Regions from separate parts of the Homo sapiens genome. Here all the other regions are linked to region 1. Evidence: fine-mapped expression QTL. A gene starts in region 1. Each other region holds a variant in brackets. All regions are shown on one strand. Distances are between the middles of the regions. Region 1 holds the start of TRABD (TraB domain containing). Region 2 overlaps SELENOO (selenoprotein O). Region 3 overlaps MOV10L1 (Mov10 like RNA helicase 1). Region 4 overlaps TTLL8 (tubulin tyrosine ligase like 8).

Evidence for each region.
Region 2: its variant is fine-mapped to the expression of TRABD in sun-exposed skin (GTEx, PIP above 0.99).
Region 3: its variant is fine-mapped to the expression of TRABD in monocytes (Fairfax 2014, PIP 0.95).
Region 4: its variant is fine-mapped to the expression of TRABD in whole blood (TOPMed, PIP 0.99).

The regions. Positions count from the first base shown.
Region 1 is chr22:50,184,321-50,187,001 of GRCh38, forward strand. TRABD (TraB domain containing) reads left to right here and starts at 1,593. Exons shown (of 10, transcript NM_001320485.2): 1 at 1,593-1,656. RefSeq lists silencers at 766-835, 1,026-1,125, 1,396-1,765, 2,032-2,341.
Region 2 is chr22:50,212,484-50,215,164 of GRCh38, forward strand. The region is part of intron 5 of SELENOO (selenoprotein O); the gene reads left to right. Among named protein-coding and RNA genes, the nearest start is that of SELENOO-AS1, 3.6 kb to the left of the region's middle. The variant AT/A (reference allele first, on the strand shown) is at 1,331.
Region 3 is chr22:50,108,504-50,111,184 of GRCh38, forward strand. It overlaps MOV10L1 (Mov10 like RNA helicase 1), which reads left to right. Exons shown (of 27, transcript NM_018995.3): 5 at 154-341. Among named protein-coding and RNA genes, the nearest start is that of MOV10L1, 20 kb to the left of the region's middle. The variant A/G (reference allele first, on the strand shown) is at 1,439.
Region 4 is chr22:50,046,749-50,049,429 of GRCh38, forward strand. TTLL8 (tubulin tyrosine ligase like 8) reads right to left here. Exons shown (of 14, transcript NM_001350317.3): 5 at 2,501-2,574; 6 at 420-548. Among named protein-coding and RNA genes, the nearest start is that of TTLL8, 10 kb to the right of the region's middle. The variant T/C (reference allele first, on the strand shown) is at 1,621.

The DNA.
Region 1 (2,681 bases):
GCTGGGGCCGGGGCCTCCCTTCCTGGAGCCTGGAAGGAAGCAGGCTCCCCAGCACGGAGTCCTGGTGGACGGCCTCAGGCAGACCCAGACCAAGCCTGGGCGCTGCGTTGGACTCCCCCAACCCCAGGCCTGCTGGGTCAGCCTTCCAGGCTCGCTGAAGGTTCCTGCGTGGGGCAGCCCTCACTGAGGTCCTCCCCGTGGCTCCAGAGAGGAGCTAGTCCTAGGGCACTCGAGTAGAGAGGTGCGCCCTCCTCCCTCTTCTAAATGGTTCCCCAGCTGGCCCCACCTGGCCCCTTTCCCCAACTAACTCATCAGTGCCTGGCAGGAAGACACAGCAGCCCTCCCCCGGTGACTGGAGTCCTGGCCCCAGGGCAGGCCCCGCTCCAAGAACCTGATCCTTTGGCTGGGGCAGGGCCGTAGAGGTGGGCGCAGAGCTTCGGGGAGCTGGCTGTGGGGTCCGCGCATGCAGCCCGCAGGCAAACCATTGCCAGGCCCACGCCTGCACTAAGCCCAGCGCCAGCGCCAGGTCAGCCAAGAACCCGGGGTCGTGGAGGAGGAAGGAAGTCGTGGGCCCGGGATGCGCGGCCGGACCATTGCAGGAGAGCGGGGCAGGCGGACGGCGCAGCAGCTTGCGGGCAGCGAGTCGTCTGCATGCGGCGGCGAAGCGCCCGGGCCCCCGTCCGCGCCGGTGCCCGCAGCGCGCAGCAACTTGGCCGCCGGGTCCCGGCCGCCCCGGTAGAGGCTGGGTACAGCGAGGGGGCCGGGCGCCCGGGCAGGACGGGCGCGGCGGGTGGGGCCTGGCCGTCTCCCCCTGCCCTCGGGGCCGAACACGCACAGCGAGAGTCTAGCGTCGGCGTGGCTGCGGCCAGCCGGGTCCCCCTGGAGGCCTCCGGACGATCGGAAGTGACTGAGCGTCCGGGTCCGTGAGGCCGGGGGTCGGCCCGCCCTAAGACTCCCACCTGGTCCCGGTTCTCCGTCCGCTAGGCTGGCCGCGGGGCCCCTGGGGCCCGACCTTCCCGGGGTGCCCCAACCTGCGGCAAGGCCGAGGTCCCGCTGAGGCATGAGTCCCGGGTCGGGGACCGCTCTGGGCCGACCCCCGGAGGACGGACTAGGCCGATCCCCAGAGGGAAGGGGGCCAGGCCGAGGCCATGGCAGCGCGTTCCCTGATCCCGTGTTCTCGGCTCCTCGCGTCCCACTATCGGCTGTCCCTTTCGTGCGGGACTGACGGCTCACAGAACAGTTACATTTCAATATCATTCGACTGAAAACCATCCTGTGGACGCCGTGCGAGCATTGTCCCCATTTCACAGCTTGGGAGCTGCGACCAGAGAACGTGGGCGCGCCTCGCAAGGCCGTGACCGCGGCGGGACTCGAACCCTCCCTCCTGAGTGCGCGCCGATGTTCCTTAGGACCCGGGAGCGCCGGGGGGGGGGGGGGGGGCGGGGGCCCCGCGCGCTACCCCCTGGGAAGTGTAGTCCGAAGTTGCGGGCCGGGGCCAAGCAGGAGGCGCGTGGGACTACACTTCCCGGCATGCCACGCGGCCGCCGGCGCCCTCGGCCCGTCCGCCCCGCCCCGCCCCGCGGCCCCAGCCCGCCCCGTCCGTTGAGGGCCCGCGCCGCATGGAGGCCGGCTGAGGAGCGCCGCTGCCTCGCCTCGGTACGCCGCGCGGCGCGGACGGCGCGTGCGTGAGGACGGGGCCCAGCACCGAGCGGGGGGCGGGCCCGGGTCAGGGCCGCGGGGTGACTGTGGGGGGCGGGGGGAGCGAGCCCGAGTCGGGGGGTGGGGGCCGGGGGCGGGGGGGGTCAGGCCCGGGTCAGGTTTTGGGGCCGGGGTAGCAGGTCGTGGGGGTCAGGCCCGGATCAGGTTCAGGTTTTGGGGCCGGGGGAGCAGGTCGTGGGGGTCAGGCCAGGGTCAGATTCAGGGTTTGGGGCTGGTAGACCAGGGTCGTTGGGGGCCGGGCCCGGGTCAGGTTTGGGGGCCGGGGTGGCAGGTCGTTGGGGGGGCCAGGCCCGGGTCAGGTTTTGGAGCCGGGGGAGCAGGTCGTGGGGGTCAGGCCCGGGTCAGGTTTGGGGCGGGAGCAGGCCCCGCGCGTCCCCTGCCACCGCTGCCGGGAGCGGCGCTGCCGAGGAGCGGAGCCCCCCAGGGCTGGGGCGGGGAGGGTCAGCGGCGGCCTCGCGGGAAGGCGCGGGTCGGACCTCGAGTCCCAGGGTCCTCGCGGGTCGGGAGGGCCCCAGCCACCCCCGCCTGCCGCCTGCGGTGGAGCCGGCCGAGGTGAGAGTGGAGGAAGGCGGCCCAGGCCTGCGGGTCTCTGGGGGTGCTGGGGGAGGCCGAGCGGGAGGCCCCGGACCCCCGTTGTCCCCTCCGGCCCCGCTGAAACCTGGGGCTTCGCTCTTCTGTAGGTGCCTTTGCCCTTCAATTGGAGCAGAGCGGGGTTCCCATATGGGCGAAGTGGACGCCAGATCGTCCCCCGCTGTGCGCAGCCCAAACTTAAAAGGTCTTTTTAACTGAGCTATCATGAAGCTGCCGTGTGTCTTTGTCAAAACTCTTACAAGAAAGATGGAGTGGGAGCTGTCTGGGCACTAGCGTCCCAGAAACAACCAGGAACTTGTGGAGGTGCTAAGCTCCCTGCGGGGACTCCCGCAGCCTCGGTAGCCTCCAGATGGAAGCCTCCTAGCTTTCAG
Region 2 (2,681 bases), 28 kb after region 1:
TATCCTCTTAAATTGTGGAGGGCACCGCACATCACAGCTGACGCAGGAGCAGTGCTGTACAGCCGAGCCCTGGAGCTTGTTCACATCCGCCACCCAAACCCTGTGTGAGCCGGTTACCAGCTCCCCATTCCCCTCCCTGCAGCCCCTGGTAGCAACCACTCCGCTCCGAGTCTGTGAACCTGACTGCTCTAAACCCTTCATGTAAGTGGAGTTACACAGCGTGTGCCTGTTTCTTCAGTCTGTTGTCTCCCTCTAATCTTCGTGTAAGTGGAGTTACGCAGCGTGCGCCTGTTTCTTCAGTCTGTTGTCTCCCTCTAATCTTCGTTTAAGTGGAGTTACGCAGCGTGTGCCTGTTTCTTCAGTCTATTGTCTCCCTCTAATCTTCGTGTAAGTGGAGTTACGCAGCGTGTGCCTGTTTCTTCAGTCTATTGTCTCCCTCTAATCTTGGCTCTTCTTTCTCCAGTTCCTTAGGCGTGAGTTGAGGTAACTGATTGGAGATCTTCTTCAGTGTAGCCATTTACACTGTGCATGTCTTTCTGGTCACTGCTTTTGCTGTGTCCATCAATTTTGGTATGTTGTGGGTTTTTTTGGTTTTTAGACGGAGTCTTACTCTGTCGCCCAAGCTGGAGTGCAGTGGCATGATCTTGGCTCACTGCAACCTCCGCCTCCCAGGCTCAAGTGGTTCTCCTCCTTCAGACTCCCAAGTAGCTGGGACTACTGGCATGCTCCACCACACCTAGCTAATTTTTGTACTGTTAGGAGAGATGGGGCTTCACCATGTTGGCCAGGCTGGTCTCCAACACCTGATCGCAAGTGATCTGCCTCAGCCTCCCAAAGTGCTGGGATTCTGGGGATGAGCCGCCGCGCCCAGCCAGTGTGTTGTGTTTTTAAGTGATTTCTAGCTTCATTCCATTGTGACTAGAGATGTCAGCCTTTTGAGGTTTATTACAACTTGTTTTGTGGCTTATCTTGGAGAACTTTCTGTGTGCCCTGGAGAAGACGGTGTGCTCTCTTTTGCTGGGCAGAGCGTCCTGTACCCGTGTGCCCTGGAGAAGACGGTGTGCTCTCTTCTGCTGGGTGGAGGGTTCCGTGTATGTGCCTGTTTGGTCTTGTTGGTTTAGGCTGTTGTTCAGGTCTTCCATTTCTCATTGATCTTCTGTCTGGATGGTTTTTTTGTTTTTTGAGACGGAGTCTTGCTCTGTCACCCAGGCTGGAGTGCAGTGGCGCGATCTCAGCTCACTGCAAGCTCCACCTCCCAGGTTCACGGCATTTTCCTGCCTCAGCCTCCCGAGTAGCTGGGACTACAGGCGCCTGCCACCACGCCCGGGTA[AT/A]TTTTTTGTATTTTTAGTAGAGACGGGGTTTCACCGTGTTAGCCAGGATGGTCTTGATCGCCTGACCTCGTGATCCACCTGCCTCGGCCTCCCAAAGTGCTGGGATTACAGGCATGAGCCACCGCTCCCAACCCTAGATGGTCTATCCATTATTAAGTGGTGTGTTTAAGTCTCCAACTCTTACTATAGATAGAACTGTTTGTTGTCTGTCCCTTCCATTCTGCCAACGTTTACATTTTTGGGCTTTCTTATTGGGTGCATGTTTATAATTTTTACATTTTTATTGATGAATTGACTCTTTTATCCATATATAATGCTGTCTCTTGTAACGACTTTTTGTTGAGGGTGGATGTGTCTCACTTTGTTGCCCAGGCTGGAGTGCAGTGGCACAGCTGCGGCTCACTGCAGCCTCCACTTCTTGTGCTCTAGTTATCCTCCTGCCTCAGCCTACCAAGTAGCTGGGATTACAGGGGTGAGCACCTTTCCCGGCCCTTCTGACAATTTTTTATTTAAAATCTTCTCTGGCCGGGCATGGTGGCTCATGCCTGTAATCCCAACACTTTGGGAGGCCGAGGCAGGCAGATCACCTGAGGTCAAGAGTTCGAGACCAGTTTGGCCAACATGGTGAAACTCCATCTCTACTAAAAATACAAAGATTAGCCAGGCATGGTGGTGGGTGCCTGTAATCTCAGCTACTCAGGAGACTGAGGCAGGAGAGGCGGAGGTTGCAGTGAGCTGAGATCACGCCACTGCACTCCAGCCTAGGCAACAAGAGCAAGACTCCATCTCAAAAAACAAAAATTAGCCAGGCATGGTGGCGGATGCCTGTAATCCCAGCTACTCGGGAGGCTGAGGTAGGAGAATTGCTGGAACCCAGGAGGCGGAGGTTGCAGTGAGCCGAGATTGCGCCACTGCACTCCAGCCCCGGCAACAGAGCAAGACTCCGTCTCAAAAAATAGAAAACTTATCTGCTGTGAGTTTAAGAGTCGCCTCAGCTCTCTTTAGGTTACTCTTTGCCTGGGTTTCTTCATCCTTTCACTTCCAGCCTGTTCGTGTCTTTGAACGTCTTGCAGATCGTGTGGTGACAACATGGAAATCGTCTTTTCACCCACTTTGCCAATCTGCCTTTTGTTGGAGCGATCAGTCCATTCGCTTTCAAAGCAGTTACTGAGGGGGAGCTTCTGCCATGTTTCTGGTCGCTCACGTTCTCCCTTGCTACCTTTGTGTGTAGTCGACTTTTTTGCAGTACGTTGCTTTGACTCCCTTCTCATTTTGTTTTTAAGACAGTCTTAGGGTCACTGTGGTTTCAGACAGTGTTTTCCAGAGTCAGGGGGAGGATCGCAGTGTCTG
Region 3 (2,681 bases), 76 kb before region 1:
TGTTGGAGAATCACTGGACCAGTGCTACGGGATGGCGGACTTGAGCTTCCTGGTGCAGCTTGTGTGCTTTGGGCTGACTTGGGCGTGTGTTAGAGCTGCGCCCTGTCGTCATGCAGCATCTGCTTCCTGTGACGCTCAGCTCTCTGCTCCCAGGTCTGCATCTCTAGCCTCTGTGGAAGGAACGGGGTGTTAGAGGAAAGCATCTTCTTTACCTTGGACTCCTTGAAACTGCCAGATGGGTACACACCCCGGAGAGGTGACGTGGTCAATGCAGTGGTGGTGGAGAGCAGCCAGTCATGCTATGTCTGGAGGGCACTTTGTATGACCCTAGTGAAGAGGCGGTAAGAAAATGCTTTTCTGGCCAGGTGCGGTGGCTAACGCCTGTAATCCTAGCACTTTGGGAGGCTGAGGCAGACGGATCACCTGAGGTTGGGAGTTCAAGACCAGCCTGACCAACGTGGTGAAACTCTGTCTCTACTAAAAGTACAAAATTAGCTGGGCGTGGTGGTGCTCGCCTGTAATCCCAGCTACTCGGGAGGCTGAGGCAGGAAAATTGCTTGAACCTGAGAGGCAGAGGTTGCAGTGAGCTGAGATTGCGCCACTGCACTCAGGCCTGGGCGACAAGTAAAACTCCGTCTCAAAAAAAGAAAACGCTTTTCTTCTTTGGGATGTGAAAGGCCCCATATAAGTATATTTTGAAGAGTTACTTTAATAAGCCAAATAGTAGACATTTCAAGCCCTGAGTTGTTGGGGTAAGAGGAGAGCATCCCTAGCACTTCAGGAGGCCGTGGCAGGAGAATTGCCTGAGCCCAGGAATTTGAGACCAGCCTGGGCAACATAGTGAGACCCCATCTCTACAAAACATTAAAAAATTAGCCAAGCGAGGCCGGGCACGGTGGCTCACGCCTGTAATCTCAGCACTCTGGGAGGCCGAGGCGGGTGAATCATGAGGTCAGGGGATCGAGACCATCCTGGCTAACACGGTGAAACCCCGTGTCTACTAAAAAAATACAAAAAATTAGCCGGGCGTGGTGACGGGCACCTGTAGTCCCGGCTGCTTGGGAGGCTGAGGCAAGAGAATGGCGTGAACCCGGGAGGTGGAGCTTGCAGTGAGCCGAGATCGCGCCACTGCACTCCAGCCTGGGCGACAGAGCGAGACTCCTTCTCAAAAAAAAAAAAAAAAAAAAAATTAGCCGAGCATGGTGGTGTGCACCTCCGGTCCCAGCTACACACGAGGTTGAAGCAGGAAGATTGCTTGAGCCTAGGAGCTTGAGGCTGCAGCGAGCTGTGATCGTGCTACCGCACTCTAGCCTGGGCAACACAGCAAGGCTCTGTCTTAAAAAATAAAAAGAGAAAGGAAAAGGAGGCTGGTCATGGTGGCTCACGCCTGTAATCCCAACGCTTTGGGATGCTGAGGCGGGTAGATCATGAGGTCAGG[A/G]GTTCGAGACCAGCCTGGCCAATATGAAGAAACCCTGTCTCTACTAAAAATACAAAAATTACCCGGTTGTGGTGGCAGGCACCTGTAATCCCAGCTACTTGGGAGGCTGAGGCAAGAGAATCACTTGAACCCAAGAGGCAGAGGTTGCAGTGAGGCGAGATTGCACCACTGCACTCCAGCCTGGGTGACAGAGGAAGACTCTGTCTCAAAAAAAAGAAGACTGTCTTGCCGGGCGCGGTGGCTCACGCCCGTAATACCAGCACTTTGGGAGGCCGAGGTGGGTGGATCACAAGGTCGGGAGATTGAAACCATCCTGGCTAACATGGTGAAACCCCATCTCTACTAAAAACACAAAAAATTAGCCAGGCGTGGTGGCCGGCGCCTGTAGTCCCAGCTACTCGGGAGGCTGAGGCAGGAGAATGGCGTGAACCCAGGAAGCGGAGCTTGCAGTGAGCCGAGATCGCGCCACTGCACTCCAGCCTGCACAACAGAGTGACACTCCATCTCAAAAAAAAAAAAAAGACTGTCTTTTGGAAGCTTTCAGCCATCTCTATGGTTGACTGAAGGTGGAGTTAGGGGTCGCTCTTCATCCTTCATCTTACATTGGTGATTGCTGTTTTGGGTGGATTTTTCTGTTTTGTTGTTTCACATTTTGGCATTTAAAAAATGCATTGGATGTAGTTGGTTCTTAAAATTATTGGATTTCTGGCTGGCCACAGTGGCTCACGCCTGTAATCCTAGGACTTTGGGAGGCCAAGGCGGGCGGATTGCCTGAGCTCAGGAGTTCGAGAACAGCCTGGGCAACACGGTGAAACCCCATCTCTACTAAAATACAAAAAATTAGCCAGGCGTGGCAGCGCACACCCTTAATCCCAGCTACTCTGGAGGCTGAGGCAGGAGAATTGCTTGAACCCGGGAAGCAGAAGTTGCAGTGAGCAGAGATCACGCCACTGCACTCCAGCCTGGGTAACAGAGCCAGACTCCATCTCCAATTAAAAAAAAAAATTATTAGATTTCCTGTATCTGTGTTCTTCTTTGTGTGCTAGCCATGACGAGGCTTCCCTGAGCTCCCTACTTGTGGGGCAGCCCCAGCTCTGACCCACCCCCTCCCTGCCTGCCTTTCCTCCTGTAACCAAAAGGTATGTGAGACAGGTCTCAATCAAGTTAGAAGTTCACTTTGCCAAGGTGAAGGACATGCCTGGGAAAAAGGACCACAAATCCACAGGAACCATCTGTGGTTCAT
Region 4 (2,681 bases), 140 kb before region 1:
CTGGGCCTTGGTGGGAAGGGTGTGGCAAGCTGCTTTGTGCAGGGCTGGAGGCCGGGGGAGGCGGGGGAGTGCCCGGTGCTGGGGGGAGCGGCACCTCTTCCCCTGGGGTCCCACAGCCCCCTCAGCACCCAAAGCCCGGTGGCAGCCCCCAGTCAGCCCCATCTTTGGCCTCTGTGCCCTGAGGAGGGAGCTTCTGGGGCCCCGGATTCACCCAGAGACACAGAGCAAAGGGCACAGGGGTGCTGGGGGTGGGGTGGGCACCGAGTGATTCTGGCCACGGCCTTAGACCAGGAGTCCTGGGATGCACCCAGGAGGTGACTGGTGGCCACTGACCAGCCACCGAGGGTCCCTAATGGCTGCAGAAGCTCCTCCCCACCACCCTTGCCGGCTCCCGCCACGCTCAAGCGCGGCCGGCTCACCTTGGTGGTGAAGGAGGCTGTCTTTGCGTAGTGGTTCAGCATCTGGTCGTAGGTCAGGCTGTGATAGTCAATGATGTCCCTCTTGATGGTCCAGAGGAGGTACGGCATCTCATTTTTTACCAACCTAGACTGGCAAGAAAAAAGTCTTTATTGATGCCCAGCATTCAAGGTTCACACCAGCCAGGATGGGATGGAGTGAGGCAACCATCAGAGGACAAATGGCGTGCAGCGTGAGGATCCCAGCCGGGCTCTGCTGCAGGCAGTAGTGCTCCTTGTGGGCCTCCTGCACATGGGATGTGGGGCGCAACCAGGACCACATACGGTTTCCACAGAGGGGCCTCGGGCTCTGGGGGGCCACCCCGATGTGGGGCTGCAGGTGGGGTCTGAGCCGTCCGCATGGGGTCTACGTGGGTGTGGGGACGTGCCACTTGCCGAGGTGACACGACACTTCATAACCCAGAGCTTACAGTCCCCAGGACCGAAGCCCCCAGGCCTGTACCATGGGCCCTGCACACCCCTCCCTGAGCCCCAGGCACTGGCCTCCCGCTCCTCCCCTGCTGATAGAGGGGTTGGTCGTGGAGCTGGGGGCCTGTTGTTGGTGCTTTTCTGTTTATAACAATGGCATGTGTTAAGTCAAAATTCCAACCAGGCTGGGTGCAGTGGCTCACGCCTGTAATCCCAACACTTTGGGAGGCCAAGGCAGGCAGATCACCTGAGGCCAGGAGTTCAAGACCAGCCTGACCAACATGGTGAAACTCGTCTCTACTAAAAATACAAAAATTAGCCGGGCGTGGTGGCGGGCGCCTGTAATCCCAACTACTCCGGAGGCTGAGGCAGGAGAATCACTTGAACCCAGGAGGCAGAGGTTGCAGTGAGCCGAGATTGCACCATTGTACCCCAGCCTGGGCAACAGAGTGAGACTCCATCTGAAAACACCCCCCCAAAAAAGTGTGTGTGTGTGTGTGTGTGTGTGTGTGTAAATAATAGCATACTAATCACTAACCACTGGGTACTGGGGTGAGAAACAGCATCGTCAACAGAGCCGAAGTCCCCCAGCCGCCCCCACCCGGTAACTGCCACCTGCTTCTGTCTGTCCTCCAGGCACAATGAGCAGAATGTTTCTGTCTCTCTGGAATGCATGTGCTACAATCCTCATCCCCAGGGCGATGGCATAGGAGGCTTTAGGATTAGGTCATGAGCC[T/C]GAGCCCCTTATGATGGGCTAGCACCCTTATAAAAGAGGCCCCAGAAAAACCCTCGCCCCTGGGTGAGGACGCAGAGAGAAGCCAGCCGTCCATGAAGCAGGACACTCTCACAGCACCCAGCCACACTGCCCCAACCCAGACTCCAGCCTCCAGAACAGTGAGGAATGTTCTGATGTGTCCACACCACTGCCCACGGACCTGTGGGAGCCGCTGGAGCACCCAGGATGCTCTGTAGGAATGGCACTGACTCCAGGAACCTGGAAGGGCGAGCTCACTGGCCATGTGGGAGGCGCCTCATCAAATCTGGGCCCATTTTTCTATTTGTCTTTTCATTACTGATTTGTGAGTTCTTCATATATTCTGGACATTTGATCTTTTAAATTTTAAGTACTGCAAATGCCGCCTCCCACCCTGGTTTCTCTTTCGCCCTCTTTATGGTGGAGTGTTGGGAGCCCCGGAGGGACTAGGCTGGGCTGGGGAGGTGGGGAGGCACATACTACTGTGTTGCTGGAGACAGGAGCTCACTCGCTGGCCAGGCCCCATCCTGCAACACACCAGCCGGGCTGTCCGAGCCCTGCCGGGCCTCAGTGCCCTCAGCTTCCACATGCGCACAGCAGGCCAGCCCAGTGTGGGTGGAGGGGAGCTGGGAGCACCGGGTCCACCCACTACACAGCGGCTCATCCAGCACCGAAGGGCTCGCCCCACCCCTGGGGGCAGCCAGGCCCTGCTGCCCGGTCAAGGGGCCCTGCTGTGACTGGGGCTTTGCCCTCGCCGGGCTGCCATCCCCCCAGGACATGGGAGAGTGGGCACGGAGCAGGGCGACGGTGTGAGAAGCTTTGGAGAGGCCGCAGCTGACCATGACGCATGCAGGGGACGTACCATCACGTCGTGGATGTTGTCTGTTTTCTCCAAAGCCATTTCTTGATTTTCTTTGACTTTGGCACATGTATCATCTGCCAACAAAACACAGGGGAGGCCTGAACATGAAGCCTCAGCCAGACTTCCCGCACCGGGTCCGTTACCACAACCGCAGGCAGGACAGCGACTTTACTTCCAGAAA